4 separate regions of the Homo sapiens genome follow, and all the other regions are linked to region 4. The links come from fine-mapping of genetic effects on gene expression. A gene starts in region 4. Each other region holds a variant in brackets. All regions are shown on one strand. Distances are between the middles of the regions.

Region 1 (7,300 bases), 76 kb after region 4:
AGCAAACAAGCGTGAGGGTGTCCTGGCCCTGGTCCTCCACACCCAGGGTTTTGTGTCTTTAACACACACACGAGCCCCGAAACTGACCTTGTCTTCTTTGTCTCCATCCCGGCTCTTCTGGGCCCGCAGCATCAGGGCAGGAGGGCGGGCCACTCGGCCCCGCTCTGTCCTTGTATCTGTTGGGCCAAAGCAGTTGTCATTAACATTTCATTTGTCACAGTAGTTTGGAAAACCTAAGCAATCAAAGACAAAAAGTGGCCCTGAAGATTAGAATTGGTCAGTAGACACTGTGCATTCCACAGAAAGGTGGCATTGCCCTGTCCTTGGGTTGAAGTCTAGTGACAAAGTTCTCATCCCAAAGCGAGGATGCACCTGACAATGGGTTTGCAGGGGCCAGAGGCCTGGGCACACACATGCACCTCTGGACTCCCCAGCCCGACCTCCCGGCATCCCTCTCCTGTGCCTGTGTGTGCAGGCAGTGTTCACTCCACCCTGGACTCAGCCTCTTGGACAAGCAGGAAACAAGCCCAAAAGTGGGAGGCCCGAGACTTGGCTGTTGTCCATCTGGTGACAATCACCAGGGTGAGGCTGTGACAACCCTCACACTCGCAGCCCAGTGGGCCCAGGGTGGGAGTGCTGTGCCCAGGTGTGTGGATGTCTTGGGGCTGCTCTCTCGCATTGTGGGGCCCCCAGTGCGCTGGGCAGTCAGGAGCCTCCTCCAGTGATGCCAACCTGCGCCCTGGACTCCATCTATGCCCAGGCTGGGTGCCATCTAAAACACTGTTGGCCAAGCCTTGTGAACTGGGCCACGTGGGTCACAGATGAATAGGACACAGGACCTTCCCAAGAAGGACAAAGGGCCAGTGTAGGACAACAGAACCAGCCTTGCTGAGGTTCTGCCAGCTGGTGGCCATGATGGGCTGCCCTTGGTCCTGGCCCTGCCAAGGGGACAGGAGGGGCTATGTGCAGGCCACACCGCCAGTGACCGTGGCTTACTGGCCGCCATGGTGGGCCCTGGTTTTTCCAGGGGGCCGGACCCACAGCACTTGGAAAGGTGCTTGTTTCAGGGGAGGAAGGGATTCTGCAAATTCCCAAAGATTGTTACTTTTTTGTCTTCTCCAAAAATGTCTATCTAACTCTCAAAATTTTGCAAGTAGATTCAGGGAAAAACAGTAAAGCAAGGTTGAGCTCTGTTTTAATACCAAGAATAAAAAGAAGGACCCAAACCATCTAACCACACACCAACCTAAAACAATAGATAAGTTCTCAAAGGAAAGCCCTGGCCAGGTCTCATGGGTGTGCAGGGCAGGACCCTTGGGAAGCAGAGATTTGTTTAGCTTGATCCAGAGCTCAAGACTGGGCAGTGCAGTCAGGGAGGCCTGGGTATGCTCCTTCCTGGTAGACGGAAGGATGGGGAATTAACGTAAATCACTTTATACGTGTGTGCACACAACACACAGGTGCGTATATGCACACACACACATAGAAAGGATGTCCTCTGGCCCCTTCAAGCTACACGTCTGTGCTTGAAGGGGGTGAAAGGCAAGACTGGGGGTCCCACTGGCACACCCCACCTTCTAGCCTTTCTTCCTTGCCCCACTGCAAACTGGGGCCCCTCTGCAGCTCCGGGAAGGAGATTTGCATAGCTCTGCATGGGGCCAGCTGTCATGTCCTCCGTGGGCATTGGCACCTGTCTGGCTTGCGGCTGCAGAGCCAGGTGGTCTGCAAGGCATCCCTCCCCAGCACCCTTGGGAGGAAGCCCCTCATTTGAGTTGGGTCAATCAGCAAATTTATTTCAGGTGCGGAGCAGCAACACTAAGGCAGCCCAGACGTGAGCCGGAGGCCCCATCCCCGGAGGTGCTGAGTTCGGATGAGGCAGAAACACAGCATTCCACCCCTGACTCCCCTCCATCCAGTGAGCGGGTGGAGGAATGCCCAGCCTGTCCACCTCTTTCACTCTGCACAGCGCCCTGCCGGGCAGGCTCTCCCCAGGGCTGGGTGGCTGGTCTGCCCTTAGTGCCGGCTGCTGGCAAATAGGCTGAGCAGGGATCCCTGAGGGCGCCGGCCTCCTCCGTCATTGCCACTTTACGAGGGTGTCCACACAGAGTCTACACTGCACACTCTTCCTTCACAAGAGGCCTGCCAAGGCCGACCACAGGGCTCCCATACAGCCATGACCACCCCAAGAGACGCCCTCAGGCCTGACAGCTGCGTGCACAGGTCTATTTCAAGGTTGGCCTTGGGGAAGGGACTATCGGCTTTTCACTGAACCAGGTAACCAAGCCTGAGTCAAGAAAAGATTTCAGGACAGTGGAAATATTTTACTGTCACTCAGGAAGAGAAGCAGAGTCCCTGGATTGCATTAAGATTTCCGGAACTCTGTTAAGAATTACTCCCAGAGCCCATTCTTGTCAAGGTGCAGCGGTCATCAAGCAGCCTGGACACCGGGTCTCTGTCCTGATCCTGCAGGGTCGTCCTGTCCCCACCCCATCTCTGCCTCCTCATCTACAAGATGGGATTAGCTGGTCACTACCTCTATGCCACAGAAAGGGGCAAGCAGATGGGGACACAGCCATGCCCTGGGGAACCCTCATTAAAAAACCCAGGGCTCTGTCCCTCTGCCTCCATCCTGCAGACACCAGAAGCAGCCCCCTGACTGAGGCACAAGGGGGCACACAAAGGAAGCTGAGCCCACCGTTCCCCTGCCCTCACAGACCCAACGCAAAGCAGGCCCAAGCGATGGGACGAGGGAAGTTAAACTTGGTGATTCAATGACCCAGCACTCCACATATTTCACGACTGCTCTGAGACCTATTTTTTGACTGGATATGAGTGGATGGCTTTTTACTACCTAAGAATGAGCCAAAAGTGAATTGGTTTAAATTTTATCTAAAGTACAGCAAAGAGCAAGTCCCAGGGAGGAAGTCTGGAGGGGTCGTGCACGGAAAGCTGAGGTTGTGTTTTAATTATATGCCACACACTCTATGTTTTCAATATGGCAGGTGCCTATAAAACACACAGCAATCTCAGTAGCAGAAATGCACGTCTGTATCTTCTACGAGCATGTAAATAAATACACATTGTGAAAAACTGTGTTAGGAACACTGGCAGCCTGCGAGGAGGCCGTAAGCCCATAATACTGTTCTCAAATGACAGCATTGCCTAGTTTACTCCCCATTACCTTGAGAAAACATATTAAGATATTTTTCATATTGAAAACAGTTGATCTTGTAAAAAATCAGATCTTAAAGTCTGGCTTTTGAGATAAACGGATTTACATTGTTCCTCATGAGTGCTTCTTAGAGGAGATATTGTTGATGATCATTTTAAAGCCCCCAGTCACAGACACACACCCCGGAATACCTGCGACAAATGTTTGTGCCTTGCCCTAAATAGTTTTCTTAATAACCGGCACTCTTTCACAGTCA[T/C]TGATTTTGCAGGTACCTTGGAGGTGTGTGGGTGGCACCAGGGGCTCACACACATAATTGGGTCTGCGTGTCAGCCATTCCACCGTGGAAGTGCTTATTCTACGGCTCTCCGGGGGCCACTTCCAGGGTCCACTCTGACATGCTTAAGTACTCTTTGCTTTGGGCCTCTCCACAAACTCTGATGATGTTGTCATAAACTCCTCCCTTGAGTGGCAGACAGAACTAGTTTATGGAGGAAAATCAACAAGTGTAAGACCATGGGCGCTAAAGTACTTCGGGGAGCATGCAATGTATTTCCGCCCTCCGAGAGAGGCACGGCGGTAATACCTTTCTGGGCAATGCCTCTATTGATCAAACCCAGCTCTGAGATGTGAAGTGCTCCCCAGCTCCCCAGTGCCCTTCAATGTAATTTTCCTCCTGGCAGTGATGAGAGACAAAGAGAACTGAGAAGGTCGCATGAAGTCTGGAAGGAAGCAAAAAAGCCTGTGCTAAAAACTCCCACGCCAGTCAGCTGACAAGCATTTATTCACTGCTCTTATAGAGTCCAGCACGACCGTCCTTGCTGGTGGGGAAGAAGTGAGAGGAAGTACTGTGAGCAATTAGACACTCCTCTCCTCCTCTCTCAAAGGGCCGCAGGGACTGGGGAGGGCATCCAGGGGAAAAGTATTCAACACCAGCCTCTTGAAGTCAAACCGGGCAACAAAATATCTCTTTAAGAAAAGTGTGGCGGCCGGGCGCCGTGGCTCACACCTATAATCCCAGCACTTTGGGAGGCCGAGGTGGGCGGATCACGAGGTCAAGAGTTCAAGACCAGCCTGGCCAAGATGGTGAAACCCTGTCTCTACTAAAAATACAAAAATTAGCTGGGCATGGTGGTGTATGCCTGTAATCCCAGCTACTCAGGAAGCTGAAGCAGAGAATTGCTTGAACCTGGGAGGCGGAGGTTGCAGTGAGCTGAGATCACGCCACTGCATTCCAGCCTGGGTGACAGAGCGAGGCTCCATCTCAAACAAAAACAAAAACAAAAACAAAAACACACACCAAAAAAAAGAAGAAAGAAAAAAAGAAAGAAAAGTGTGGAAAGAAAAACTGTCCTATCTCCTGGGCAAGTCTTAGCTTCAGAAACTCTTGGAACTCAGCAATCAATTCGCCCTGTTTCCCTGAAAGAAGGGGGAGGTGGGTTTGCTTGTGCCTGACCCGGGGTCAGGGTCCTGGAAGCTTTTCCGTATTGCGCTTCTCAGTCATTAATCCAGGCCCGAGGCACCTGTTCTCCTAGAGTGCCTGGAAGGTGAAGACTCAAAGGTATCATCATCACCTGGGGTCAGGCCTCAGCTCAAAGGCAGCACCAGGATGCGGGTCCAGTTGATGGCATATGCCATGTAGTCATCACACACCCTAAGACCAGCAAATGCTTCTTACATTGAATGAAGTATCAGGAATTTATTTATTTATTTATTTAGAGACAGGGTCTCACTCTGTCATCCAGGCTGGAGTGGGTTCACTGCAACCTTCAAGTGATTCTCCTGTCCTTCAAGTGATTCTCCCGTCTCAGCCTCCCGAGCAGCTGAGATTACAGGCATGCGCCACCACACCTGGCTCATTTTTGTATTTTTAGTAGAGATAGGGTTTCACCATGTTGGCCAGGCTGGTGTCGAACTCCTGACCTCAGGTGATCCTCCTGCCTCGGCCTCCCAAAGTGCTGGGATTACAGGCGTGAGCCACTGCGCCTGGCCCAGGAATTTATTTTAACATTCAAAAGAGTTTGTTTCTTTAAAAATTATTAAAATAAAGAACTACTCTAGGAAGTCAAAAGTGTCTAACTCATCAAAAAGTTATTAGAAATATATCAGTATCTCCCAATGCAAAAAGTAATTCTGAAAGTCAGTCCAATTTTAATTCCATAAATATTGACCTCCTTTGACCTCAGTTTCCTCATCCATAAAAGAAACTGTCTTGATTCTCTTCCAGTTCTGGGATTCCAAGTGTCAACATGATATCTGGAAGCGTGTGGAGTAAATCCCAAAGGAACTGGAGTTGCAGCCCTCACCATGAGGCTGTAAGAACATGCGTCTTCTGGTTTCCTGCCCGGGGAGGAGGGGAACCCGGGGAAGTGAATGGACCCCACGGGGGAGGAGGGGAACCCGGGGAAGTGAATGGACCCCACGGGGGAGGAGGGGAACCCAGGGAAGTGAATGGGCCCCAAGGAACAGGGAGAGAGAATTTCACCTTTCTATTCTGAAAGCCGAGAGCAACCGCTCATGCATTTGAAACCAACCTCCTCTGATGATCTTGGAACTAGGCAGGAAATCTCTTAGGCTGAGGAGGGCGTTGACTCACAGATGGTCTCCACCACCCCTGAGGCTGGAGGAAACTGGGAGGGCTTGGAGTTCTCGATTGTTGTAGACTACAGCCATTATGAAAAGGGTTCATGAGGAGCATCCATATCACGCGTGCTCCACGCGCGCTGGCTCCGCTCGCAGCTGGGAGCAGACCCTGAGACCAGCTCACGCGAGCCTTGCTTGGTTGGACATGCACGCCTGTCCAGTCGCCTCCATTCTTGGGGAGAACACCCAGGCCTGTGCCAGCCATGATGGTGGTAGGGTGGCAGGAGCCAACCGGGAGTCACTGGAGCCCTGTTTCTGTGTTTGTCACAATCTAGTGACCCCATTTCCATATATGAATGGTTTCACATCCAAGAGCATATAAGGTCTCATCCACTTGCAGAATTGTTGTAGAGAGAATAATCAATGATTTTTTTTTTTTTTTTTTGAGATGGAGTTTTGCTCTTGTCATCCAGGCTTGGAGTACAATGGCAAGATCTTGGCTCACTGCAACTTCTGCCTCCTGGGTTCAATTGATTATCTTGCCTCGGCCTCCCGAGTAGCTGAGATTACAGGGGCCCGCCACCACGCCCAGCTAATTTTTGTATTTTTAGTAGAGATGGGGTTTCACCATGTTGGCAAGGCTGGTCTCGAACTCCTGACCTCAGGTGATCCACCCGCCTCAGCCTCCCAAAGTGCTGGGATTACAGGTGTGAGCCACCCCACCCGGCCTGAATGATATTTTAATCTTGCCTACTGCCTCCCTGGAAGCACCCTTCTGAAATAATTTCCAAGATGCTGAGATAAAGTAGGCACACTGATCTCATTTAACAACTGAGAAAAGCAGACTAGGTGAGCATTTTCTAGATTATAAAGTAACCCAGTAGGGAGGGCACAAATTATCCGTCAATTTAACCGGTACTGAGCTCCTTTGAAAAATTTGATAATAAAATAAGGGGAAAATGCAATTTATGGCTAAGGTAATAAAAATAACACAGTCAGGGCCCGTTGTATATGGTCCTGAATGAGGCGTGGTGACTGCATTGATTTTCCGAGTCAGCCTCTTCAATGAGAACCAAAGTATCTAAGGGAACCCTGCCCCTGGGAAGGTGCCTGCGTGCCATCTTCATGCTGAGTGTCAGATTCACAAGAGTTGCCAGCCCCGGCGCAAGGCGGAAGCAGGAGAGACATAGATTTCAGGGGTTAAAAACAAGAGAAGCCCAGGGGCCTGAGGGGCTCTTGAATGGAAGGGGTGCCATGTAGTGCAGGGAAGGTTGGTGGCAGCTGGGAGCAGAGAGGCACGGCCTGGAGGTGCCTCCCTAAATGCCCTTCTCCAGGGCCTGCCCCTCTACACAGAACCTGGCACAGTGTCCTCCAGATGATGTCAGGAAAGCCAAATCCCGCTGGTGAGGAGCTGGTGAAAGGGGAGACTGTGCAGCTACCTGGACAGTCTCCCCCTGTCCAGAGCTCCCCCTGGCAGCTCAGGACTGGGAAGGAGGGAGGAGGGTGTGGGACCAAACCCCTCAAGAAGCCCCTCCCCCAGCAGGGCTT
Region 2 (7,300 bases), 110 kb after region 4:
GATGGGGCCCCGAGCCTCTCTGAGGCTTCTTTTGCATCTGGGGTGGAAGAAGCTTGTGCCTGCTCAGCTCATGCACCCCGTGCACCTGCAGAGGCAGCGCCACGTGGACAACACCAAGGTCACAGCTGGTACCTTCTGGGGCAGCAGGTCCAGCCTCTCACCTGGCCCACTTGAGCCACAGCTGGGGCGGCTGATGAGTGCTGGGTCAGAATGAGGGGAATGGAAACTTGAGGCAGCCCTGCGCAGTGAGCCCCAAGATCTCATGGGCACCCTGGGCCCCTCCCTGAGCCCTTCCACCCTCAAGGGCCTGGCTCTCTGGGCCTGTGAAGGACTTGGCAGCCCCAGGCTCTCTGAAATGCCTGCAGGCTCCTGCTCCCGTTGTCTGGTGAACAGCATCTGGCCGTGGCCTATCTGTACTCACCCTTTGATCAAAGGGTGCCTTGGCTACCCTTGGTGCTCTCTCCCCAACCCCCTTCTCATTCTGTACCTGGCCAGACAGAGGATGTTCCAACTTTAAGCTCTGCTTCTCTTTTGATTGTAAATTCCATTTTTAACTTGTTTCCCTCTTTTCACATTTTACTATAAGGTCAAAAGAAGCATCCTGAACCCCTTGCTGCTTAGAGATTCCTGACAAATGTCCTAGTTCACTGCTCGCAAAGCTCTGCCTTCACCAAGTCCCAGGACACAGACACAGCTCACCCAGTTCTTGGCCACATTATAACAAGGGTACCCTTCCCTCAGTTTCCAATACCTTGTTGCTGAGAAAGAAAATAAACTTTTTATCTGAGGAATGCAAGCCCCTTTAAAGTAACAGGCCTGTTAAATGGGCATTAAAACTATGACAGCAGTCACGTCACACCCCCTTGAGCTAAATAATTACTTCTTGAAGCCACCTGCTCTGTGGGGTCTCAACTGACAACAAGCAGTCATAAAGGGCCACATACCAGGCACCATCATCACACCCTGTGTTCAGCAGTGCACAGCCAATCACTAAACAGTGCCCCTCCTGTAAACAGTGGGAAATCCCACCCGACAGCTTTGTAGCAGCCACCCCTCGTTCTCTTTCGCCTTTAAACACCTACTCGGAGCACTCCCCTATGCAACCTAGAAGTGTGTCCCGGCGGCTGCCCTCACTCTGGCTCTAGCAAAGGCTGTAAAATTACCTGCTGTGTCTCAGCTTCTCCCTTTAGGTCAACATTCCTCCTTTCCATCTGAAGCCTCCTCTGAATGGCCCTTCCCATCTATATCACTACTTTTCCCGACAGCTCTCCCCTCCTCTGAGCTCTCACCAGGATCGTCCTTAATGCTCTGTTCATGGCAATGCAGGCTTTTCCCAGCATTCACTCTGAAACGATTCCAGCCTCTGCCCCATTCCTGGTTCTAAAGCTGCATTCACATGTTGGGTATATTTTATGGCAATAGCCCACTTCTCAGCACCAGTTTCTGCCTTAGTCTCGTTTGTGCTGCTAGACAAACGAGCTGAGGCTGGGTATTTTATGAAGAACAGAGGACAGAAGTCCAAGGCCAAGGCACTGGCAGCTCTGTTGTCTGATGCAAGTTCCTGGCCACTCCACCCCAAGGAGTGTGGAGGGCCCAACCCCTGCTCCTGTGTCTGGAACATGGAGTCAAAGAAGGTGATTCTCAAACCTCGAGATGTAATGCCATTTGCATTGTTGGGTATTGAAATTACTTTGGATCAGCTACTCTTTCCTTCTTGCCTATGTCTCCTTTTTGGAATCAGGATGTTTATCCTATGTGTGTTCCACCATTGTATTTTGGAATCGGATGACTTGCTTGATTTCGCAGGCTCACAGCTGGAGGGAAATTTTCCTCGGAATAAATCACACTTTGGGTCTCACTCATATGATGTTTAAAAGACTCTGCGCTTTTGAGTTGATGCTAGAACAAGTTAAAACGTTTGGAATTACTGAAATGGAATGAATGTATTTTGCGTGTGGGAAGGACTCAAGTTTTGAGGGTCAGAGTAGAATAATATAATTGAATATGTCCCCTCTAAAATTTAGAAGTTAAAACTTAATGGTCATGTGAACACATTAAGAGGTGGGGCCTTTAGGAGTCGCTTAGATCACAAGGGATCCTCCCTGGCAAAGGGGATGGAGGCCCTTATAAAAGAGGCTTCTCGCACGGTTATCTCCCACTTGCCTTTCCCCCTCCTGCCAGTGCTGTGAGGACACAGCCTCCCTCCCCTCGGGCGGATACAGAATCACGGCGCCATCTTGGACGTGGAGGGCAGCTTTTGTGGTCTCATGACCTGTTAAAGGCCGTGCCTCTTGACACCATCACACTGGCAACTAAGTTTCAACACATGAAACGTGGAGGGGACACATTGGAACCATCACAAGAGGTGAAAGAATTCCTGAGAGTCAGGCCCACCACCCGCATAGCTGGCTTTGCCTCCCTGGAAAGTGAGCCCCCAAAACACATCCCACTAAACTCAAACTAAATGAAGCACCTCCCTTCCCCCAGCTGGGTCCTGCCACACCTACAAACACTCCACCACCACCCACAAGGCAGGGACAGCGACAGAGAGGGTCACGCTGGGAACAGACAGCAGCCTTCCTGAGGCCATCGAACATCCGCAGATTTTACACAGACACGTGATCGTGGGAGCACAGCGCCAAGAGTTCCCCGGGGTCTCGTAAGGCGCCAAAAAGGAGGGTCCCAGTACTTCAGTTTCATTCATTCATTATGGACCCGTCACTGCCAATGTAGAATTGTTGCTTTACTTACTATTTTAACAAACGCCACAATCTTAGAAGCTCTTAATAAGCATGATTTAAATGGCTGCAAATAAAAAAATATATAAAAATAAAATAAATCAATGGCTGCCAAATATTTCTACAAAACATGGACTGCAATTTGCTCTGCTGCTGCTGTTGGGCATTTGGACTTCTTTTTTATATTTAATCTCCGAATTTTACACTGCATTCTGTGGGATGTCCTCATGCGTCCTTCTCTGCGGGACTGTAATGACCTTCTAAATGCTCAGCTGTGAGTGAGTTTTTCAGAGCTGCCGGCTTTGCTAAACATGGCTGCTCTTTTACCCCACGTCCACCACCACGCTGTGCTGAAGGCGCATCCATCGACCTTCCTCAGAGACGAGGAAAGAGCCAATGAAAGATGCTAGAAAGCTCTAACAAGTCCCAGGGCCACGTGGGGGTCACGGGGGCTGGTTCTCTCCAGATCCTGTAATGCGTTTCCGATGACTGCTCCTTAGGAAAGGTCCCATGGACAGAACTGCTGGGTTAAACAGACAAACTAATTAAGAGTCTCGATTTATATTAATCCATTTCTTTCCAGAAGCGTTGTACCAAACTGCATGATCACCAGCTGCACGTGAGCCTCCCGACCACATGAAGGAGCACAGAGAACGTACACGCTCAACTGATTGTAACAGCCCACGTTAGAAACAGACTGATGCCCCCAAAGCAAGTAGGTATGCGCATGTCTGCACCGTGGGGTACCACAAAAGCTGGTAAGGCCGGAACTTTTTCGCCGGGCGCGGTGGTTCATGCCTGTAATCCCAACACTTTGGGAGGCCGAGGAGGGCGGATCACCTGAGGTCAGGAGTCCGAGACCAGTCTGCGCAACATGGTGAAACCCCATTACCACTAAAAATACAAAAATGAGCCAGGCGTGGTGGCGAGTGCCTGTAATCCCAGATACAGGGAGACTGAGGCAGGAGAATCCCTTGAACCTGGGAGGCGGAGGTTGCAGTAAGACAAGATCATGCCACTGCACTCCAGCCTGGGTGACAGAGCAAGACTCCATCTCCAAAAAAAAATAAAAATAAAAAACAGATTTTTTCAAGTTCACTACATTTTGGTCTTTAAGGTACACTGCTAAGTAAAACAGTAACGTAGCGGAATTCAAGTCAATAACATCCTCTCCACATTTTCAGGAATCCATAGGCTTGCATGGAATACACTGGAAATATTCTGATTATCTGATTATCAATAGAAGTTTCCAATATGAGAAGAATAGGGTTGGGAGGAGCTTGATTCTATAAGCTTCTAAATTGTTTCCATTTTTAAAATAAAATATGTTCATTTTTTACAGTTTATTTAGAAAAAAGAAACACTTAAATAATTAAGTCTGCCGTCTGTGGAAACGTACACCTCAGTTTTGATTGCTTCATGATTCATATTAACCAGGTGCCATCCTAAGTGGAAGTTTGAGTGAAGAGGTTTATTCTGGTTCACAGATTGTGGGGACAGAAGTCAAAGGTCACGCCGACACC[G/C]ATGTGCTTGATTTATCACACAGCTGCCAGGAATTCCACTTACAAATTCAAGAACCATAGACAACAGCCCTCAAAGCTTTTCAATGACAGCAGTGACGCCTTCTCAGGAGTAGTGACAGTGTTCATGGATATGCGTATACCTGTCTTCAGCCCTCCGAGCTGCGCTCTCTGGGTTACAGAGCACAGCTGGGTGGTAGATGACCTCACTTAAGACTTCCAGTACGTCCCACTGCACTCTCGCATGGGTGACAGAGTGAGACTCCGTCTCAAAAAAAAAAAGACTTCCAGTATGTCACAGTGGTGACCTTCATGGTCTCGTCACTTAAGATCAGCTCACTGTTTAATGAGGCTGATGACAAAAAAGCACCCTAAGACCTCTTTGACCAGACAGCAAACTGCCTCTGGTAGAACATCCAAGCTGGCCCCAATCACAGGTGCTCACGTCTCTATTTTAAGGGAATGCATGCACAGGACTTCTCAGCCTCATGGGAAAACGCCCCCGTCATGTCAACCGTTCACATTCGAAGATGGTGCGTCTCTCCCATGAGGATGAATGTGGGTCACCGCAAACGATTCAGGGACACATCTGCTTCTGGTTTGTGGCCCTGCCATACCGAGTTTCAGAGAGGTTGGAATCCAGAGGCCAGTAGGGGCCGGGAGGTGGGGAAGGCACTCTCCTAACTGCTGCTTCTGCTCACATCCCGCCGGCGAGCGCTAGCCCTGGGGGCAGCCTGGGAAATGTGATGGCAGCCTCCCTAGCCACTTTCCACTTCAGACCTCCTCCAAGTGGGGGGTGGGCATCTTAAGGGGACAGCTGGCTGTCTCCACCGCAACCCAGCTGGGAGGGGAGAGGCGTGATGTCACATTAGGTCACACTAGGGCATGAATACGTGAGTCCCCACAAAACCCCAAAGTAGGAAGCTAAGCCCCAATAGGACGATATGAAGAGGTGAAACCTTTAGGAGATGTGAAGTGATGAGAGCAGAGCCCTCATGGATGGAATGAGCGACCTCATGGAAGGCCCGAAGGGAACCAGCTAGGCCCTCTTAGCCCTTGCTCCCTCCTGCCATGGGAGGACACAGCAAGGAGGCGCCATCTTGGAAGCCTGGTGGCTTAGCACTGGGCCTGGGCCTAGCTAGGGTCTTGGCAGCTCTCATCAGGCACCAGATCTGCTGATGCCTTGGTCCTGGACTTTCCATTCTCCAGACCTGTAAGAAAAGCATTTCTCATCTCTATAAATTGTCTAGTCTAAGAGTATAGAGGAGCGGGAACAGACTGAGACAGGTCACAAACCAGCAAGTGGGCTGGCCCGATGGCCCCACCACAAGCAGGCTCAGGAAACTGGCACCTGCCCCCCCACCCTGCCCCCGCATCTACATGGCCTCCATATGCACAGCTTGAAAATGGGGATGAGGATGAGTCCATCCACCCCAAATGCCAGAAAGCACCTGTCAAAGCCATTTCCCATGTACAGTGGAGAAACTGTCCGTGATGGTGGGTCCTGGCTTCCCAGCAGCGGTGGCCACAGTCACTGTGTGGGCTCCAGTGGGGCACGGAGCCAGCTCAGATCCAAAGGTGTGTGTCCTCAAATCAAAGGACATCTGTCCAGTGTCCTTCCACTAGAGGCTAAAATAAACCAATGAGCCTGCGGGTAAGGGAAGAATGTTTCTTGGGGCAGAAGACTCCCTTCAGGGAGAGGCCCCGATGGCAGTGGACTTGTCCCTCAGCCCCTTCACAGCCTGGCCCCAGGCAGAACAGGTTGGCTGGAGAGAAGAGCCCACCTCTCGGTTTTATGAACAGGCAGAGGAAGGGATCCTTGATGGAGGTTCACACCATCTCTGACCACAAGCCCAGTGGCCTTTCTGCTTGAAGTCCAGGGTCTTGACCATGGGGTCAGGGCTCACGTGCTCTGCAGCTGGATCTGGTCTAAGGCCCCTGTCCCTGGACCTGTCATGCCCTCAACCCCTGCCACCCGGCTCTTTCTGGGGCTGCACTGAGAATCCAGCCTCTCCCAGACCAAGCGGCCCATGGCATCAACTCAATGGCAGCCTCTCCCAAAATCCAATTTCATTACACCTGGCTTTACTGCCGTTGTGACTGACAAGTGGTCCCCTTAAAAAGGGAAAAAGAAGGTTAATGCTCGCAATTCATCCTTTTATCCCAACAGCTCTCCTTTATGGAACGCCACATAATTAACCAGTGACGTGCACGCCTCATTGTGAGGCACAAATCAGATGCATCCCAACTCTCTGCTGTGTCACTTGCTTCAGAAATGTGAAGCTATGAAACCTAAACAGGTTTTCAATTTCTCCTAATGTAAAAAAAAAAAAAAACAGCAATAAAATCAAAAAGTGAGAGAAAAAGGGAGAAAAAGTTAGACTCTGGAAATAGCATCCTTCATGAAACTACATTAGATGTGAATTATTCCCACAATGATTTCTCTGTGGAATTGCCTCATTCCAGCCTGTATCTCACATTAGGGAATTTTGTAACAGGCTGAACTTTTATTTAAAAATGCTTCTCTTAAGTAGCTCCAGTGCAGCCCTGGGGACGTGGAGGTAAACGCCGCCTTCCATGGCCTTCCCTTGGCAGGGCACATCCTGGCCTGGGGTCATGGGGCCACCCTGGCATCTCTGACTGCCACTTCCTGGAAAGGCAGCATGTCCGCAGCCACCTTGCTGAGGTCACCTGGTCTTGGAGGCTCAGCACGGCGGACCTCATCCTTCCTAAGAGGCTGCAAAGGTTGTTTTATCCAAAAGATGTTTTATGCAAAGGGTGCAGGAGACGGGAGGCTGTGGGAGCCCCTGGGATGGACCCAGAGTTGGGAAGCTACGACAGAGGGCCGAGGTGGTGACTGCCCTCCACCTGGCTCCTGTGCCAGGTCTCTGTGGGGTCTGTGGGCAGACAGCTTGCCATATGAGCAGGGGTCCACGGGCAGATGGTTTGCCATATGACCACAGAGGTCTTACTATAGCTCTGTAGCTCCTTTGTCTGGAAGACTCTGAAAGGGCAGGAAAATGGATGCTGCAGACACGAAGC
Region 3 (7,300 bases), 220 kb after region 4:
CAATACTTTACTTCTTTAGTTTCCTTGTGAACAAAATGTAGTCAGTAAATTTGAACCCGAAAGCCAAAACAAACCATTAGAAAGATGAAAACTTAAAGCATCATATGAAGAAAAACTGACTTTTAAAACTTCAACTGGTATTGTGTAATGTTCAAGTCTAGATTTTTGATCAATGGATACAAATTTAAAAACAAAAAAATTTTAAAAAAGACTCTGATTCAAAAATTGGAAATTTTACATTGCCCTGTGGAATCCAAATATCCTAAACTAAAACAAAATGCCCCCCACCAGCTGATATTTTTGAACAAATCAATCTAATCCTGAAATGATTTATTTCTATACCTAGATGGCCAATTTATGGCAACAAGAAAATACATGGGTATTTTTGTTGTTATGTCGATGTTCGACAACTTAATCATTAAAAGCCCCTTATCCAATTAAATCACTTGCGTTTTTACCTTACAGTTAGGAATCCTTTTGTCTATCCAACTTTTCCCAATAGGGGTTGCAAGAGCAGAAGGGCAGAGATGTGGGAAGACGGGCACCAGCTCCACTGTGGAAGAGGGGGGCAGTCCTAGGGACGGAGAATGGCCACCAAACAGCCACTGCAAGCCAAGCAAGAAAAGACAGCTGCATTAGCCTGAATCCATCCACTCGACTTCATGCCAAAACATGCTGGAATAACTGCTTTGAAAAGGGAATTTCAAAATGTATGTATTTGATTATCAGATAAATTTCCTCGAGAAAAACTATAAGTATGTACCAATCAAAGAAAAAATTATAGAAGTTTTCATATCTGAATCATCACAAAGCATTACCAACATTGCATTCTTCAATACTGAAAAAGAACTTCTAAGCACAAAACCACAAGCACGCAGTAAGAAATGGGTTTCTGCTCTGAGATAATGAGAAATCACCATGAAGAAGAGAAATGCTGGGTATTCCTTTTCTAATTCTTAAATTATTTTTATAGGCAGGCTTAGGGCTATATTTTATAATATTCCTTTCAGCATTGCATTTTGTATTAATTACTTTTGTCGTTTTACAAATAACTAATACTTTCAAAATGAAAATATCTAGGAAGTTAAGATTCCAAGTTTCACCAATACAAGGTTCACCAATACAAATAGATTCTATGGCAAAAAAAAAAAAAAAAAAAAAAAAACTAAGCATCTTCTAAGTTGAAGATCTCAATACACAGAATAAAACATCAGTCATGGAAAGGGGCTGGTAATTCAGGGCACCGTCTCTCTAATTAAAATAACTGAGACCTCATAAGGCACTAATAAAATGCATTGCTCAATGACATGGAACGTTTCAGTACCTATTGTTTTAAAATCGTAAAAGCATTTGTGATGTTCCTGTTACATGAAAATGTTCTTCTGGTTGTACATATTCTTACTTTACAGAAGCTGGGTAGCACAAAAATATTTAAAAGATTAATGCTAAGGTTTTTTAAATTTTCTTTTAAATTTATATAAGTGAAAAAATGCAGTTTTTTAAAGCAGAATTTAAAAAATGTAGTTCCTTGACATTATATACCTCTAGTGGCAGCACTCTGATATAACACCCCTCCAAAATACGGCAAAAACTACCAACGTTTCTTGAATAAAATCCAAAATAAACTGCATCACACATAAAAATACAATATCCAGTGCTGCATATGTGATGTATCATTAAGTCTAAAGACCAATTTAGCAGGAGTTTAACAACATCTTTTAGAAAAGCTCACAAGATAATATTGGAATTAAATTAATCAAATGGTGTATTCTAACATAACACCCGTTTGAATATGCTAATGAGGTCAATCCTTGGAATAAAATGCACGCTATTCCCTGATTTAAATGCATCTGCATAGTTAGCTGACAATGAATCTTGCCCAAACCAGCCCGCCTAGCTCTGCTGCACCATTTATCAAAGGTTCAGTCACTTTTTCTTTTTAATCCCATGTCTTAAAAGCCAAACTCTAGTTCTAAAGTGCAGTGTGGCATTAGCGAATGTGGTGGACTCCGGCAGGCCTGGGGCAGGGGAATCTCCGGTAACATCCCTCAGTACCGAAGGCAGGATTTCCCGGCCACTTCCGTCGGTTGGAATTCTCTTAAGCATTGCCCTGAGTCTATTTTCAAATGAAAGGGGGAAAAACCCAAACCAGATTAGAATCTGAAACAGCTGAAACAGCTATCGATTTCCAGCTTGCTTTCAAGTCTGGCAGAGACTGTGAAAGTCCTAACTTCTCCGCGATGTCAGCCACGGCCCGCGGCGGTCACGGAGCCACTTCAGCACCTCGCGATGGACAGTGACCCCCGGCGTGGCGCGAGTTCCCTGCGGTCCCCACGCGGGCCTGGGCGGCGGGTCCCTCCACGGCTCCGTCCAGACACCCGGAGGCACCTGCCAAAGCTGCGGAGGTGGACGACCGGGCGTCCAAGCACGAACTTTCTCGCCGAGGCACGGCTGCCGGGCTCCGTCCTGAGGGTTTGGGGCGGCGAGGACCGCCGGGGAGGAGGGCGCGCGAGCCGGAGGCCAGAGCCGGGCCGGGCAGGGCGCGCCCAGGAGCAGGGGAGACGGCGACCCGGGCCGAGGCGGGACGGGGACACGTTACCTGCCCGTGGAGCGCGGGGAAGGGGTGCGCGGCGGCGGCGGCGGCGGAGTCTGGCGCAGAGGGCAGCGGCAGCAGCGGGAGCACCGGCTCGCTCGGGGCCGGCCAGCCGGGGAGACCGGGGAGCAGCGGGGCCGCGGGCGGCGGGGCCGAGGCGAGCAGCACCGGGGGAACCACGACCCCCGCGCTGAGCCGGAGCAGCCCGGCCGAGCCCGGCACCATCCAGACCCAGGGCGGCGGCGGCGGCGGCTCTGCGTCCATCGGCCAGAGGAGAGGCTGCCGCCGCCGGGGCTGCTGCTGCTGCAGCTGCCGCCGCCGCCGCTGGAACCTGGCGCCCGCCTGCATCCTACATCCCCGCGCTGACGGCGGCGGCGGGGGCGGCGGGCGCCCGAGATGCTGGGCCGGCGGCGGCGCGGCTCCGGAGCGAACTCACTTGGCTCCGCGGCGCGGCCGCTCGCTCCGCCCCTGCCCCGCGCGGGAAGCTCCTCCTCCTCCCGCCCGCGCCGCCGCCGCCCCCGGACCCGGCCCCCGCCCCGGTCCCCGCCCGCCCGCGCCCCTCCCCGCCGGACCCCGCCCCGCCCTCGCGCTCCCCGGCCCTGGCCGGGGTCTCCTCCCCGCTGCGCCCCTGGACCCGGGCGGCCGCGGAGGACGTGGGTGGGAGAGGGCCGAGGGCGCGCCCGGCTGGGCTCCCGCCGATGCCGGCCCCCTGGTGGCCTCTGGCCCTCTGGGACCCAGCGCACCGCGAGGGAGGCTCCGGGCTCCGCACTCAAGGGCAAGCGGAAGCCGAGGTGGCGGCGCCGGAGCCAGGCATGTCCCGCTGCCCAGCGCGGGGCTGAGGGCGCAGACGGGGACCGCGCGAGCCGCTCTCTACCTGGCCTCCTCGGAGTCCAGGGCGCGGAGGGTACTGGGCTGCGGATCCGGCGCAGGCGGCCCCGGACGCTGCTAGGCGCGGGCGGATTTCTGTTGCACAAA[T/C]GGGCCAAACAGGTTCGTAAGGCCCCCGCGGGTCCCCTGGCCCGGAAGTTGAGCCGCGGGTGCCTGGTCTGAAGTTCCGCGCCCCACAGTGGCCCGCGGGCCTCGGCGGCTCCTGCCCTACGCCCTCCAAGGCACCAGGCAGGTGGCCCCAGGGCCTTTGCCCACGACACCCCCTGGGTGGGGCAGGACCACCCCTCTGTGAATTCGTCCTGGATGCCCCCAGGCACAGTCTGTACTCCTCCCTCCCCCAGCACACGCGGCCTCTGACGCTGCACGCCGAGCTTCCTGGGACCCAGGACGAACCGGGCTCCAAGGACCCTCGCTCCGCCCGGACCACACGCAGGCAGCGCCGGCCGAGCCGAGCCTGGGTCCGCACTGGCCACGCGCAGCCACCGCCAGACGGCGCTAGCCCTCCCCCGCTGTAGACCCTGCTTCGGAGGCCGCCAGCCTCCTCCCCATCCCGGGTCCACAGCTTCAGTGCAGCCCCTGGCGACGCGCGCTGACAGCTGGGCAGAGACTTCCGTGCGCTGTAAACCCCTTAGGTCGCTAAACCCAGGAAACCCAAGCACAGCTAATGCCAGCGCGAGACCAGTGTTGTTAGAGGCATTTGAAGGGTCTTTCTGGATGCAAAAGGCAGCATTATGATCCATGCATTTAAGAACTTGCATGAAAAACCCTCCCTGACCTGGGTGGGAGAGCAGGCACCCACCCACCCAGCGGCACTGACACGCCTGGTACTCCAAACCCGTGTTCGCATCACCTCCCACCTGTCCACTGCCAACCTCCTGAGATGGCCTAAAGCACCCGAGTGCTTTTAATTTGCGTCTAGGGTTGTTTCCTCATTATCCTGATTTGCTTAATTTCCTCTTGGCCTGGCCTGATTTCTTTTAGATCTGGGCATATGCTGATTTACATAGCTGGCGCCTCCATATTTTCCTCCACGAAAACCAGTTTTCAATTAGCAAGTTTATCTCTCTCTTTGATGCAAAAGTACTGGCATTTTTTTTATTCACCTAAAATCAGAAAGCTCTGCACATTAGAAGGCTGTTACTATTCACTTACACCCTTAATTTATGTGCATATATTAGTATGTGCACATGTGTTATAAATGTGTTAGTTTAATGGTCAGAGCCAGATCAGGATATTGGGGAGGCGTCTCCAGGCAGGCTCACATGCCCCTGCCACCCCCCACCTCCCCCACCGCATAGTCCCTTTTGCACAGGAGATTCTCCTTCCTTCTGCTTGGAGGCAGAGACAGAAGGCCAGGGGTGCTCGTGCCTGGCTTGCATGCTGTTCTCTGCAAAAGCAGGGTTTTGCGTGTGTGGCCCCCAGGTTCCTGGGAAGGTAGGGTTGGCCACAGTCTGTGGGAGCTGTAGCACTCCTTTGGGGAATCCCAGCCCCATCCCCACTGTCCTAGAAAGGGTTCTGCTGAAGTCCGTTTTTGCCAGCACCCCTCCGGGCTTCCTGATGCTCTGAGCTCAGGACCCCTTGAGCCACTACTTGGCTCTGAAGAAGAGCTGGAAAGTCGAAAGCAGCTCTTGACTCAACCACAAAGCGGCCTAAACTCTTGCTATTTCCTGCCACAAGCTTGACTCTCCTTTTGTATGACAATGCTTGGGAGCCCTTTTCTGTACCATTCTGTGTGCTAAATTATGGGAAAACAGCCCTCAACGACGCAGGCACGGCCATTTCCACTAATCGTTGCTAGGGCCAAGGACCCAGCACAGGGCTTCTCCCCCTCCTCCTGGCTCTCATTTCTGTCAGATTCTTTTCAAGGTTTGCCTCTCATCCCGTTTAACCCGGGAACCTTCTACACCCTCATGGATAGGAGAAGCCCCCTCATAGATACACTCATTTCAATGATTGTTTAGAAGGACCGCCTCCATGAACCGGTTCTGCAAATGTCATTTGTACATCTTGAGGATGGTTGAAAGAGCGAAGGCAAAGAAGATGCAAAGAAGACAGCTGTCACACAAACAAGCAGGATGCCACCTTCTTCCTGGGGACCAGAAGCCAGGTGAATGTCTAGCTTTGAGCTGGGACTCTCTGCCAGAGAGATGTGTGCTGGCAGGCACATCTCCCTCCCTGTGAGTGCCCCCAGAGGTCAGCCCTGGGCAGACAGGTGGCAGGCACCCCATAAACTCGCCCTTTGTTTCCCTGTAAAAATCAGTGAGAAATTTGCTTTATAAAGCATCTTAGGTACAGTCTAGTCTCCAGCTCTCCTATCCAATAAAAACAACCTTAAGTCTTTCCATGTTATTTGGGCAAAACCAGCAGAAATTTCCTGCTAAGCTGAGACAGGATATCACCTAGGAAGAGGAGATCCGCAGCAGGGAAAACGTGTGAATTACCTACATGTGCTAATGAGTTCCCGATTGTTTATTACCTTTCAGGAAAAAATCATGGGGAAGGTTTCAGAGACATCAGTGGAATAAGATTTTGAAGCCCATAGAATATTTTTTTCTTTTTGGAAGTTATTTTATTTTGTTTTTCTAAGTAAAACCTAATAGAATCCCAAAATGGGAGAGATGAAAACATTTCCTTCCAGCCCTGCAGAGTTAAAGTAAACAGCAGGGAAACAGGAGGGAGGTCTAGGCCCTGCATATCACCTCGGAGGTTCCCTGCACCACCCACCGCCCACGCTGCCAGAACTTCTTTCCAAAGCAATTGCCAATCAGACCAACTCCTTTCTGAACACTCGCCAGCTGCGCGATGATGAGGCCCTGAATGAAAGCCGTGCCAGCGAGGACCCAGAGAAGGAATCAGCAGTGTGACACCTGACTCAGTGCAGGGTGAGGAGCAGGAGGGTGTGAGAGTGGCTCCCCCTGTTCTGTGAGACTGGGGAGAGCCTGGAAAGTCTGTGCTCAGAGATGAGGAGCCCTCTGGGATGCACCATGGGCCAAGAGGTTGGCGAAGACGTGCTGACCTGGAGGGCTCCAAGGTCACCTGGAAAGACTTATCCTCTTCACAATTGAAAACTTCAGCCAGGAGTTCAGGAGCAAGGTCTTGGATGGAGCCACAGAACTGAAATTAACACAAAAATCGAGAGTGGCAGCTGTCCGTAGTGATTGTGATCAAAGATGTGGGTGGGATCGCCCAAGGCAAGCACAGAGTGGGAAGAGGAGAGGCCACTCATGGAATCAAGTGACGGGAAGTGAGGCTCCCAGCGAAAGACAGAGCGAGGTACACTGGGCCCACAGGCCGCCTGGGCAGCCAGGAGCATGCTTGTCTGATAAAGGCTGTTATTACTGTTATTTTTGTTATCAGTGTGTTACTGTAGCATATCTGGAAAATACTGCGGAGCATTATGAGTCAGAACCCCTCAGGGAGAAGCAGTGCTAACCTTTCGGTGACCTCTGTACAATCATTTTTTCTCCTCACTTCTCTCTCTCTCTAACGTGTATACGTGTGTATGTGTGTGTGTGTGTGTGTGTAGTATGAATAATATATTGCATCTTGTAATACAGTATTACATTTTATATTAAATTGCATTTTCTAATAAATAGCTTTAATGCAGCCTGTACTATATGTAACCTTAAATCTTATTTTTCACCCAGTATCGCAACATAAGCATTTCCCCACATTATTTAAAAATCTTAGAAGAACCCACTTATCAATAGCAGAGCAAATACCCCATGGAGGACAGATGGAGGTTCAGGTCGGGGCACCCTGTCGTGTGAATTTGCATCCACTGTGCTGACTTTCTGCAACTGTCGAAGGACCACACGTGTG
Region 4 (7,300 bases):
AGCACTGTGGGCAGGGGCAGGGCTGGGACCAGGAGCTCAGCAGTAGGCAGTACTGTGGGCAGGGGTGGGGCTGGGACCAGGAATTGAGTCTCCCTGGACTGGTCAGGGCCTGCTTTGCCCATGCTGTGTCCACTGTAAGTGAAATGCTGCTGTGCACCTGTGGTTTCGTGTAGGGTGGATCCGACAGCAGTCCAGGGGCCACGCAGGTTGTAGTCCCTGGGTATTCTGTGCTCGGGTTGTCAGCCTGTACCAGGGCAAGAAGCCAGCAGCAGCGGCTTTGCAAATGGATCACAGTGGGTGGCAGGAGAGGGCACTGCCTTCCTGCAAAACCCACAGGGTCCCCAGAAGCTCCTCCCTTTCAATCCTGCAGCCCCGCCCTAACAGGTGCCAGCAGCACTCAGCGCCTGCAGCTTCCCCCACCCCGACATCCCTCCCTGGTGGCTCTGGGCAGAGTCCTCCTAATGAGACACACTTACTGTCCGCAGCACCCCAGGGTGGGGTTTCCAGCAAGTCCCATCGCACAGCATTTCAATTACACGTCTCCTTGCGCCAAGCCACAGCTATGCCTTCTTCAAAGGGCTGCAGCCCTCCGCCCTGGTGGAGAGGCCTTTTCCTTGGATGCTCTCTGGAGCCCTGGGGGCGCTGGCTGCTGCTGTCACCTGCTATCCCTATGCTATTCAGTGATCTGAACTCAGCAGCCTCCAGACTCCCATCCCCTGGGGTAGTCATCCATTGATAGATCCATTAATAGATCCCTGTTCAAATCACAGGGAAGTCTCGCTTTCCTGACAGCCCCTCGCTGATCCACAATCGGCACTTGCTCCTCCGGAGTCTGGCTCTGACAGCACCGTCACAGGTCCTTCCAACTCCACAGGTCATGGCCAGGTAGGAGGGCAGCTCGTGTCAAAAATGGCCTGAGCTGAGCGACGGCCCTGGAACCCCCAGGGGCCACCCAACACGGAAGGTGAGGTGTTAACAGCGACAGTGTCGGGACCAGGGCTGAGCTCAGTGGAGAGTGGATCCCACCTTGCCCAATTACATCCTAATAAGTGTGGAAAAAAGTGTTCTCATGGGAACTAATTAAGAAGAAGGTAGGTGAGGAGGCTGTGTCACTGTTTACTAGGGGACAAAGACATTGTATCTGAACAGAGAACTCCATAAATCTTGAAATAAATGAATGGATGTTTAATAGTTTAAGGAATGCAATTAATTAGTGAAGGTTTTGCCAAACGTGGTTCCACCCAGGACTACTAAGTATGTTGAAAAGTGAGATTCTGTGTGAGTGGCATTTTCATGGCCCTTATTGCAATCATCGGGATTTTTTTTCTCCCTGAATCTTTCAAAACTGGGTATCTTTAGTTGAAACACAATGTTGCTGCTTAAGATCATGGGGAATGTCTTAGTCACACATACACACACTGGTTTAAAATATTTATTGATTAAAAAAAATTAAAAATTTTTTATACAAAGGTGATGAGAAAAAATCTCATGCAAACTCCGGGCATACAATAAAAATAACTCAAATATTAATATGATGATTTTGTACAAAATAATTCTTTTGAAGTAGGACCGGTGGCAACCAACACGGCTCCCTGCTCCAGGCCGGGACGCCCCTCTGGGAGGAACGCGCGGCCACCCTTGGAAACCTGTAAGTGATCCACGGTCCAGGTGTGGAATGCTCACAGTTGTCACTATGATGAATGATGAAAACCCTATTGCTGCTACTCAGAAACGAGACTGAGACCTAGGGACAGAGTAAGGAATTCCTCAACACTGCGGGAATCCTGGAGAAACGAAGTAATTCACAAAGGTTTTCAGAAAAGTTTTCGCCAATCGTCTTAGGTGATGACACAAATGCCTTGAGATTGTTACAGAGGCTCCCGTTCCTGCTTCCCCACAGTCCTGCAGTGGATTGATAATTTGTGTATATTACAAGTAATTTGCATAATTAAAACAATTAAGGGATCGACGTATCACGGTGATTAGAAATGCATCAAACTCTGAATGTACAAAAGAGAGAGCTTCAATATGAAACAGTAATCCTCTGAGAACGAAGACCCCGCAGTGCCGGTGCCCGCTGGGCCGTGCAGGTCTCGGCCGCCCCACGCCCGTGTCCGTCTCCACCGTGACCCCCTCGCCCCCGGCACGCCCAGGGTCAACCCCCGGGCTTATTGCATTTTTTCACAAACTCATCTCATTTTCCGCAGCCTTAGTCTGTTTTCCTTGTCCCGTTTCTTAAGAATAAGTATGAATTGGTTGAAAAAATGCTCCTGGTCCTTTCTTTTTTGAACAAGTCGGAACCTCTGATCCCGGCCGTATTTCTCTGCAAACTCCTTAAACGTGGTCCTGAAAAAGAAAGAGTTTCCTGAGACACCTTCCAGAGAGCAACTCTGGCCTCCCCAGAGATCCTGCAGCGGCACCGCCTGAGCAAGCATCCAGCCCTTCCACCAGGCCTGGCCGTGGGTGGCAGGGCACCCGGTGGGTGAGCGGCTCTGACCAGCCGTGCCTGCTCCTCACCCGGGTCCTGCAGGGCCCTGACCCACCCTCACTTGCAGGACCCCCTTGTCTCTCCTCTGAGTGGTCTCCGGAAATGAGCGGCCCCCACCAGCCTCCTCAGCCGTCTCATGCAGCTGTCACTCCCCCAGCCGCCCCGATCACAGCTTTGCTGGCCAGGTCTCCTCCGCCCCTCCCTTGCTGCCACCAGGCTCTGCCTGCCACGGTCTTTCTTACACTGTTCCCTCTGCCTGGTACACCCTTCCCTTGTTTCTTCCCCCAGTTAGAGCTGCTCGTCATGAGAAACCAGGCCAGGGGGTCTTCTTTGGGAAACTCGCCCTATCTAGAGGCTCAGAGAACTGTGACTCCATCACAGCCCTCTTCACAGTGGTGATCTTGTTAAACCTCACTTGCGGAACTGGACTCCCACATTCGAATGAGGGAGACATTATCTGCTTCGTTCTCCAATAAATGCCCTGAATGTCCAGCCCAGTGCCTGGCAAGTAGTGAGCCCCAAACACTGATGGAGCGAATCAGAGCTGCCAGGCCAGGTGGTGCCCCGTAAGAAAATGCGAGCGACCCAGCCTAGAGCAGCAAGGCTGTTCTCAAGGCTACGGCAGCTTAGAGGGCAAAACAGGATGCGCCTCTGCTGTGACCAACTGACCTTCGCAGGCACCGGGCCCCGCAACTTCCTGTTCTCTTAGCCTTGAACTTGAAGCCAGGGACAGGGACAGAGGTAGAGGGACCAAGGCCTGGAGCCGCTGGCCTATGCAGATGCACTCGCTTGTCCAGCGACAGTCGGGCAGGGCCTGGCCTGGGCAGTGTGCTCTGGGGTGCACGGAAAATGTGGACATTCTTTGTCCGGGGGATTCTTCTTATTCCCTCCCACTTCTCCTTACAGAGAATTTTACACTTCCTTGCAGACACGGAATTATTGTGTTAAATTATTATAACTTAATAGCTTCTGAAATATACAAACAACAAGATTATGCCGACATGGCTGTTAGAAGACAAGACAAATAATTAGCAGACTCATGCTCATTTCTGTCATTGAACAATTCGTCTCATTCCTTCCCCAAGGCGCTGCCGTTTTCCTGCTCTCCGTCTGTGGGGGTGCTTGTTTACACATCTCTCGCAAGAAAAGCGCTTCTCTCTGGCTTCCCTCTTCCTCCCTCCCTCCTTCCTGCCCTCTCCCCTGCCTTCCCTTCCTCCTTCCTTCTCTCCCTCCCTCCTTTTCTCCCGGTTCCTTTCTTCCTTCTCTCCCTCCTTCCCCCTTCCTTCCTTTACTGATGTAACCACCTTGGTGTACCTTGGCTAAGCCACACTCCACCCCGACCTGCGGGGGATGAGTCAAACGGTCAGACTTGCCTGGGCTTGTTCCACGCTCCCCTGGCTAGACAGGCATCTACACATTCTCAGTTAGGGGCTGGACAGGGGCAGCTGCTAGACAGGCCCTATTCTGGGCCTCTCTGAAAAGAAGAGTCCCTGAAAAGAAAGGGAGCCTCCCGCTTCCGTGGCCCCTTAGCCATGCCAAGGGGCAGCAACCGGCTTTCTGCTGATGCTGATGAGCTGTGGTGTGAACTCACGAAGGTCAGCTGATTCACAGGCCCTGGATCTCTGCTCTCCCTCTGCTAAGTGGGACTCGGGCCAGCCTGCCATGAAGGAGGCGGCTGCTGCAGCTCTCAGGAAGGAACACTGGGCGGCTAACCCCACCGGGCGGCCAACCCCACCGGGTGTCAACCCCACCGGGCGGCCAACCCCACCGGACGGCCAACCCCACCGGGCGTCAACCCCACCGGGCGGCCAACCCCACCTGGCTAGGACCCAGTCCCCGGTAGCTGCTCTCCCGAGAGGCGGGCAGGGCTGGGGCTAGGGGCTGTCCAGGAGTGTTCTGGACTGTCCCGTCGCCACCATTCCCACAGGCTGCTCAGGACCGAGGCTGAGACGGGCGACCAGGACGGGACTGTATGGCTGCAGGAGGCTACACAGCCTCAGGAGGCTGCTTCTAAGAGGCCCACGTCGCCTGCATGGGGACGCGCCTGGCTCTCCAGCATGTGGTCATTTGAATTGTACATGTTTCACTAGGATGCCTACAGAAAAGTATACAGAAGATCTGGAAAAAGTTTTTGAAATGTTGAAAACTTAGCTACTTTTAAAATGAAAAAAATAGCTTTATAATTATCAAAGCAATATATCCCAGTGTAAATTTTAAAATAATTTGCTACATTATAGTAAGCATCTTATCTCTATGTGCCCTATAACATTATGTTGTATAGTTTAAATATATACAATAAAATTTATTTTAAAAAATAGCAGGCAATTAACTCTCATTTTAAAAAGAGTCCGTTTAACTCCCTTCTAATTTCTACCACTCGTTTTCCTTCTGTGTGCGTGTATGTGTGTATGTCATCTTTTTTAAATGGCTCAATGCATTCCGAATATTTTTTCCGTTGTCTTCATGATGTATTCATGGGAAGGGGAGTATGTGGCTTATTGCTGCTAGTTTATCAATAGAGAATGCTGGCCAGATGTCTTTAACAGTAATGATGGTCTCAATAGCAGTAATGACAGCTACCACTTTCGGAGCTCCTCCTGCCTGCCAGGCACCGTCGGGGTCCCTCCCTGCAACTCCTCACGCCATCCTCCTCGTCACTTTCTGAGGTGTGTGTGGTCATCCTCCCATTTGGAGGAGGGCTCGGGAGCACAGGAAGGTCCAATACTTACCCCATGGCCAGGAGAAGATGGGCCAGGGCCAGGCTGTGAACCAAGGCAGAGAAGGGGCTCCAGCACCTTTCCAGAGCCCTTGCCTCCTCCGCCTCTGTCCCAAGGCCACCTGGTGGGTGGACACAGCTAAGCCATGGCTAGAACCCAGCATTCTCATGACTGCTTTAACAATGGAAAATCACAAGTTGCAGGCAACAGGACACACATTTCCTTGTCTACATTAGCACTTGTGATGAAGATAATTCATGCTATTTTTTCCCTATTCAGAAAGTACCTGTCCTTAGAATAGCTAGAGAAGTTTTATGAGGATTGTGTAACTAGCACTAACTTAGGTCACCTAATTCTTGATCAACCAAATCACAGGTCAAACAAAGGGGGCCTATGCCTTCATAGAAAGCATCAATTAATGTCCATTTAAAAACCGATGCAGGCCAGGCGCGGTGGCTCATGCCTGTAATCCCAGCACTTTGGGAGGCCAAGGCGGGTGGATCACAAGATCAGGAGATCCAGACCATCCTGGCTAACATGGTGAAACCCCGTCTCTACTTCTCTACTAAAAATACAAAAATTAGCCGGGTGTGGTGGTGGGCACCTGTAGTCCCAGCTACTTGGCATGTACCCAGGAGGCGGAGCTTGCAGTGAGCCGAGATTGCATCATTGCACTCCAGCCTGGGCAACAGAGCGACTCCATCTCAAAAAAAAAAAAAAAGAAAGAAAAAACTGATTCTGGCTGGGCATGGTGTCTCACGCCTGTAATCCAAGTACTTTGGGAGGTCGAGGTGGGTGGATCACCTGAGGTCAGGAGTTCAAGACCAGCCCGGTCAACATGGTGAAACCCCATCTCTACTAAAAATACAAAAATTAGCTGTGCATGGTAGTGGGTGCCTGTTATCCCAGCTACTTGAGAGGTTGAAGCAGGGAGAATTGCTTGAACCCCGGAGGCAAAGGTTACAGTGAACCAAGATCGTGCCATTGCACCACAGCCTGGGTGACACAGCGAGGGTCTGTCTCAAAAAAAAAAAAAAAAAAAAAAGAAACAAACAAAAAACTGATGCTGCATCTTCCAGTCTAAAATAAAAATACATTGTTAACCATTTTTATGCTTACGAAACTTACAGTTTTATAGTTCTAAAAGTAGTACATGTTCATTACTTTTTATTTATTTCTTTATTCTTTGAGACGGAGACTCACTCTGTCGCCCAGGTTGGAGTGCAGTGGTGCAATCAAGGCTCACTGCAAGCTCCGCCTCCCAGGTTTACGCCATTCTCCTGCCTCAGTCTCCCAAGCAGCTGGGACTACAGGCACCCACCACCACGCCCGGCTAATTTTTTGTATTTTTAGTAGAGACAGGGTTTCACCGTGTTAGCCAGGATGGTCTCGATCTCCTGACCTCGTGATCCACCTGCCTTGGTCTCCCAAAGTGCTGGGATTATAGGCGTGAGCCACCGCGCCCGGCCCATGTTCATTACTTTTTAAAGATCAGTCAATTAAAGCTAATTTTTAAGAAAGAGTTAAGCTTATGTATTCTTCCAATTTCTAACATCTATTTTCTTGTAAGTGTGTCTTATTTCATGGAAATAATGCCTCATTTATTATTTTAGTAAGTTTTGGCAACCTAGTTAACTCAGTTCACTTGTCCGGTGTATCAAATCTTCATTTTACTCTGGGACCAACTGTTAAGACATCTGGAACCAAGGGGTGTGGTAGGGGTTATGGTGCTGTTGTTTGTAGTCAGCTTTGCATTTTTGCTTCTTGATCATTAGATCAGAAACTAGACCTCATCTCATGAGTGCTCACGTATTGATTGGTTATTTGGGTCAGTCAGGGCTGCTGACGTTTGAAATGCATGCAGGGTAGGAATAAAATGGTTGTGATGCATTTGGTTAGCAAATAGCCCACTTTCCCAGGACTGATGAGAGGGACATTTGGAGGCTCATGACAGGCAGCATGATAGAGGGGAGCCAGGCTGGTCTCACTGGCAGGTCTTCAAAGCTCACACTTTCGTGTCTGTGGAAGGCTGGGTTACACGATTTAACAAAAACAAACCTGAAGAGTCCTCTTGTCATTGGTAAGTTCCCAGCCC

Which allele goes with the higher level. Alleles are on the strand shown, and positions count from the first base shown. SD is a standard deviation of normalised expression in the study named. Not every link is listed here.
With allele T in place of C in region 1, the expression in thyroid of the gene that starts at base 4,246 in region 4 is lower (moderate effect, 0.58 SD a copy in GTEx).
With allele T in place of C in region 3, the expression in sun-exposed skin of the gene that starts at base 4,246 in region 4 is lower (small effect, 0.38 SD a copy in GTEx).

Evidence for each region. PIP is the estimated chance that this variant, and not a neighbour inherited with it, causes the effect.
Region 1: its variant is fine-mapped to the expression of TCERG1L-AS1 in thyroid (GTEx, PIP above 0.99).
Region 2: its variant is fine-mapped to the expression of TCERG1L-AS1 in thyroid (GTEx, PIP 0.98).
Region 3: its variant is fine-mapped to the expression of TCERG1L-AS1 in sun-exposed skin (GTEx, PIP 0.96).

What each region holds. Positions count from the first base shown.
Region 1 is chr10:131,166,710-131,174,009 of GRCh38, forward strand. TCERG1L (transcription elongation regulator 1 like) reads right to left here. Exons shown (of 12, transcript NM_174937.4): 5 at 88-176. Among named protein-coding and RNA genes, the nearest start is that of TCERG1L-AS1, 75 kb to the left of the region's middle. RefSeq lists an enhancer at 597-1,097. The variant T/C (reference allele first, on the strand shown) is at 3,429.
Region 2 is chr10:131,198,786-131,206,085 of GRCh38, forward strand. The region is part of intron 4 of TCERG1L (transcription elongation regulator 1 like); the gene reads right to left. LOC105378563 (a long non-coding RNA gene) reads right to left here. Exons shown (of 5, transcript XR_946484.1): 4 at 5,734-7,300; 5 at 3,768-5,469. Among named protein-coding and RNA genes, the nearest start is that of TCERG1L-AS1, 110 kb to the left of the region's middle. The variant G/C (reference allele first, on the strand shown) is at 4,262.
Region 3 is chr10:131,308,695-131,315,994 of GRCh38, forward strand. TCERG1L (transcription elongation regulator 1 like) reads right to left here and starts at 3,027. Exons shown (of 12, transcript NM_174937.4): 1 at 2,600-3,027; 2 at 459-605. The coding sequence starts at 2,941. LOC101927461 (a long non-coding RNA gene) reads left to right here and starts at 3,162. Exons shown (of 3, transcript XR_242763.6): 1 at 3,162-3,580; 2 at 5,440-5,585; 3 at 5,962-7,084. The variant T/C (reference allele first, on the strand shown) is at 3,569.
Region 4 is chr10:131,090,973-131,098,272 of GRCh38, forward strand. It overlaps TCERG1L-AS1 (TCERG1L antisense RNA 1), which reads left to right and starts at 4,246. Exons shown (of 2, transcript NR_120623.1): 1 at 4,246-4,327; 2 at 4,416-4,805. TCERG1L (transcription elongation regulator 1 like) reads right to left here. Exons shown (of 12, transcript NM_174937.4): 12 at 1,419-2,346. The coding sequence ends at 2,190.